Linked DNA regions of Homo sapiens: region 2 is linked to region 1. Evidence: fine-mapped expression QTL. Tissue or cell type: whole blood. Region 1 holds a variant in brackets; the other region holds the start of a gene. All regions are shown on one strand. Distances are from middle to middle.

Region 1 (2,764 bases):
CCGACTCAGAACGGATTTTACCAAAACTGAAAATGCAGGCTCCATGCTCAGAAGCTCTTTAACAGGCTCGAAAGGTCCATGCTCCTTTCTCCTGCCCATTCTATAGCATAAGAAGACAGTCTCTGAGTGATAATCTTCTCTTCAAGTAGGTACTCCTATTTCTTCTCAATTTATTTTTTCCTTTTTGATATAATGTGCTACTGTTTACAAGCATATTGTAACTTCAGAGCTTACCTCTCATCTTTAAAAAATGTTCATTTTTTTGTCTTTCTGCTCCAAGGATATTTTGCAAAGTTACTGGCAAGTATTCCTGGGATGATAAAATGTGAAATCTAAACTTGGTACAGTGGAAATTCACTTCTAGAATAATATTTAGCTGAGGCAGAGGGCAATCCGACTACCCTTTTCTTAGTACAGCACACACAGGCTGCCTGTCTGTTCCAGATAACATAAATGTATTGGATCTAGCACTAGCTAGGAGACACTGTATTGTTGAACTGTGTTAGAATTTTATAAGCTCTTAATTGGACAAATCTCAGAGTAGCATGAACACACTACCTGTTTTCTGAATCTTTGGAGCCATAACTTACGTGAGTTTGAACTAAGCGATGTGAATAAGCCATTATTTGTTTCCTAAAGGCAGTCAAGTTTTCTGAAAAGCTACACATTTAGCAGCAAAAGAACGAGCCCCTCTGTCTTGAAATGGGCCTCTGATTTTAAGCAAGCTCTTTTGAGTCCTGGTGTCCCATTTTCTCAGTTCCTTTTTGCCTCACAATGGCACATACATAATGACTCCACCACATATAGCAGTGGGCTACTCGGGTAATGATGTGGCAGTCACAAGACAGGGCAGAATACTTTCATTTTGGTTAGAGGAATGCCACATGTCTTAGGAAATGCTCGCTGAACTGTAAGTTTCATACTTTGTCAAGAAGATAACCAGTATTCTCTCAAACAAGTCCGTAGGAGCCAACATGATTAAAAGATTTTAAAGCAATTTACTCGATAGAAGGGTTGGGCTTAATCAGGACTTGTGATCATGGCAATGGTTCCTGCTTAAAGGTGCCAGATTTTTAATGCCTTTATGTGCCAGATCTAATAGGCTTACAGAGCAACTCCATGTATATGAGGTTGCTGGGAAACTCATCTGGTTTTGAATGTGGTATATACATATTTTAATATTGAGAGTAAA[C/CTT]AGGAAGACCAGGTAGAAGTATTTGAACTGAATTCTGAAACGTACAGAGAACTTAAATTGGATGAGAATGTTTGAGAACCATGGATGGTTCAGGGTCCATTTGTATACCATAAAATCCCTTCCTATTTCTCAAAAGCAAATATTTTCTTTGATTTTGTTAATATCCTGTGATGACTGCCCACTAGGCCTTGGAATGCATGCAGATAATGCTGTAGCAGTTGGATAAAATACTCTAGAATGTCAGATTTTCAAGGAAATTACAAATAAAAACAATGTAGGTAAAAGATACGACATGTAGGAAAAAAGCAAAATTTTCCTTAAGAATACAAGCGTCGTATTTACGAGTAGAAGATTTTTCTTGGACATTTGGAGATACGTGTTTCATTTTATTGCTTGTGACAGTCAAGGAAAGGAATAAAGCTCTTGTGTCTTAAACTTGCAGCAAGAACAAAGTCCAACTATCTTTCGTTTCTGATAACTCTGTGTCTTTTTGTTCAATATTGGGTTTAGAGCTAGCTACCATCTACCTTCCCTTCAAACACTCACTCTAAACCTCCACACAGTGTAAGTATTTACATCAGGCATCTGCTAAACATTTTCACATGGTTATCTGCAGGTCTTCTCTGAGTCTGTCTGCATTCATTTATCCTAGTTGCTCAGAACAATCGCTTGGGCTGACGGCCTGGTGGTTGAGTTTACTTTGCTTTGAATAGGGAACAGCTGTGCTCCAGGACTGCAGATTGGCTATTCGGAAAAAAGGGCAAGGAAGAGAGTGACCCAGCTCTGGGTAGACCATCCACACTGTAAAAAAAAAAGTCATAGCATAGTCTTCATCTATGGCAGTGGAGATATGGTCCTGTCCATCCACCTCTATCAGGAGAGGGTCTCCATTGTTAATCTCCGAGAAAGAGGCGCCATCTGTGAAACCTCCTGCATATTGTCTAATGAAGTGCTATTTTGAAAGGCGTGCACTGTACAGGTAAGAGTGATGATGGTGTGCCTGCCTTCTGGGCAACATCTCAGTAGACTTCCTCTGAATCATTCCCACTGGACCCAACAGCAAAAGCGTACACATCATTGAGTTTTATCGTTCTATCTAAGGCGTATAACATTTTTCTCTCTGAAAGTCTGTGATTCTTTCGGAGAATGAAGGGGCTTACCCTATCCATCTGCCCCTAAAAATATTCGCTGGAAAGCTGATACCTCTGCTCAGGTTTTCCACAGCAGATCACTCTTCAGTAAGAATTCTGATATTAAGTAGTTTAATTCAGATCCATGGAAAATGACTGAGTACCAGCCATAGCTCCCACCACTCTCTAGCTGTGCAATTTAGAGGCAGATTATTTAACCTCATGCCTTGAATTTCTCATCTGCAAAGTGGGAGTACTAACAGTAGCTACCAGATATATTATATGGAATAAATGACATTAAGCCACTCATTAAACTCCTTGCAGTTTCCAAGCATTAGAAACTCAGTATGAGGAAGTTATTTCTATTCTAAGCCTAGCACAGTGCCTGGTACTCAATACATGTTGGTTGAATCAGTGAAATAATTCAAGGTCAGCACCAAAG
Region 2 (2,764 bases), 120 kb after region 1:
TTGGAAAGTAATGATTGCTGGCCATAAAGGGAAATATCTGCGATGCACCTAATGTGTTTTTAACCCTTTATTTGCTGACAATCTATAGTCATTAATGCTAAACTCGATTTTGGCTTCAGCTACATTTGCATATTGTCCAACAATGGTCTATTTTTGTAAGAATTAGATAAAATGTATACTTGATATAAAATAGTCAAAAATGTAACTCTTAGTAACAGTAAGCTTGGCATTTAGATAGACCATGAACACTTCGTCAGATACTCTGTTGGGTGTTTGGGATAGCAATTAAAACAAAGTATTGATAGTTGTATCAGAGTCTATTAGGCTGCAGCAAAGGAAGTTTATTCAAAAGTATAAACTATCCAAGATTATAGACGCATGATATACTTCACCTATTTTTTGTCTCCTTAATATGTATATATATATATATATATATATATATACACATATATGTGTGTGTGTATGTGCGTGTGCATGTTTAACTTTTAATTCAGTTAAAAACTTTTTTCTATTTGTTTTTCATCTGGATATTTGATTCTGCATATCCTAGCCCAAGTGAACCGAGAAGATCGAGTTGTAGGACTAAAGGATAGACATGCAGAAATGCATTTTAAAAATCTGTTAGCTGGACCAGACCGACAATGTAACATAATTGCCAAAGCTTTGGTTCGTGACCTGAGGTTATGTTTGGTATGAAAAGGTCACATTTTATATTCAGTTTTCTGAAGTTTTGGTTGCATAACCAACCTGTGGAAGGCATGAACACCCATGTGCGCCCTAACCAAAGGTTTTTCTGAATCATCCTTCACATGAGAATTCCTAATGGGACCAAGTACAGTACTGTGGTCCAACATAAACACACAAGTCAGGCTGAGAGAATCTCAGAAGGTTGTGGAAGGGTCTATCTACTTTGGGAGCATTTTGCAGAGGAAGAAACTGAGGTCCTGGCAGGTTGCATTCTCCTGATGGCAAAATGCAGCTCTTCCTATATGTATACCCTGAATCTCCGCCCCCTTCCCCTCAGATGCCCCCTGTCAGTTCCCCCAGCTGCTAAATATAGCTGTCTGTGGCTGGCTGCGTATGCAACCGCACACCCCATTCTATCTGCCCTATCTCGGTTACAGTGTAGTCCTCCCCAGGGTCATCCTATGTACACACTACGTATTTCTAGCCAACGAGGAGGGGGAATCAAACAGAAAGAGAGACAAACAGAGATATATCGGAGTCTGGCACGGGGCACATAAGGCAGCACATTAGAGAAAGCCGGCCCCTGGATCCGTCTTTCGCGTTTATTTTAAGCCCAGTCTTCCCTGGGCCACCTTTAGCAGATCCTCGTGCGCCCCCGCCCCCTGGCCGTGAAACTCAGCCTCTATCCAGCAGCGACGACAAGTAAAGTAAAGTTCAGGGAAGCTGCTCTTTGGGATCGCTCCAAATCGAGTTGTGCCTGGAGTGATGTTTAAGCCAATGTCAGGGCAAGGCAACAGTCCCTGGCCGTCCTCCAGCACCTTTGTAATGCATATGAGCTCGGGAGACCAGTACTTAAAGTTGGAGGCCCGGGAGCCCAGGAGCTGGCGGAGGGCGTTCGTCCTGGGACTGCACTTGCTCCCGTCGGGTCGCCCGGCTTCACCGGACCCGCAGGCTCCCGGGGCAGGGCCGGGGCCAGAGCTCGCGTGTCGGCGGGACATGCGCTGCGTCGCCTCTAACCTCGGGCTGTGCTCTTTTTCCAGGTGGCCCGCCGGTTTCTGAGCCTTCTGCCCTGCGGGGACACGGTCTGCACCCTGCCCGCGGCCACGGACCATGACCATGACCCTCCACACCAAAGCATCTGGGATGGCCCTACTGCATCAGATCCAAGGGAACGAGCTGGAGCCCCTGAACCGTCCGCAGCTCAAGATCCCCCTGGAGCGGCCCCTGGGCGAGGTGTACCTGGACAGCAGCAAGCCCGCCGTGTACAACTACCCCGAGGGCGCCGCCTACGAGTTCAACGCCGCGGCCGCCGCCAACGCGCAGGTCTACGGTCAGACCGGCCTCCCCTACGGCCCCGGGTCTGAGGCTGCGGCGTTCGGCTCCAACGGCCTGGGGGGTTTCCCCCCACTCAACAGCGTGTCTCCGAGCCCGCTGATGCTACTGCACCCGCCGCCGCAGCTGTCGCCTTTCCTGCAGCCCCACGGCCAGCAGGTGCCCTACTACCTGGAGAACGAGCCCAGCGGCTACACGGTGCGCGAGGCCGGCCCGCCGGCATTCTACAGGTACCCGCGCCCGCGCCGCCCGTCGGGGTGGCCGCCGCGCCCGGCAGGAGGGAGGGAGGGAGGGAGGGAGAAGGGAGAGCCTAGGGAGCTGCGGGAGCCGCGGGACGCGCGACCCGAGGGTGCGCGCAGGGAGCCCGGGGCGCGCGGCCCAGCCCGGGGGTTCTGCGTGCAGCCCGCGCTGCGTTCAGAGTCAAGTTCTCTCGCCGGGCAGCTGAAAAAAACGTACTCTCCACCCACTTACCGTCCGTGCGAGAGGCAGACCCGAAAGCCCGGGCTTCCTAACAAAACACACGTTGGAAAACCAGACAAAGCAGCAGTTATTTGTGGGGGAAAACACCTCCAGGCAAATAAACACGGGGCGCTTTGAGTCACTTGGGAAGGTCTCGCTCTTGGCATTTAAAGTTGGGGGTGTTTGGAGTTAGCAGAGCTCAGCAGAGTTTTATTTATCCTTTTAATGTTTTTGTTTAATGTGCTCCCCAAATTTCCTTTCATCTAGACTATTTGATTGGAAATAT

The links. PIP is the estimated chance that this variant, and not a neighbour inherited with it, causes the effect.
Region 2: it holds the start of ESR1, and the variant in region 1 is fine-mapped to the expression of ESR1 in whole blood (TOPMed, PIP 0.98).

Annotation. Positions count from the first base shown.
Region 1 is chr6:151,690,520-151,693,283 of GRCh38, forward strand. It overlaps a transcript of ESR1 not described here. Among named protein-coding and RNA genes, the nearest start is that of ESR1, 120 kb to the right of the region's middle. The variant C/CTT (reference allele first, on the strand shown) is at 1,193.
Region 2 is chr6:151,806,116-151,808,879 of GRCh38, forward strand. It overlaps ESR1 (estrogen receptor 1), which reads left to right and starts at 1,567. Exons shown (of 8, transcript NM_000125.4): 1 at 1,567-2,249. The coding sequence starts at 1,798.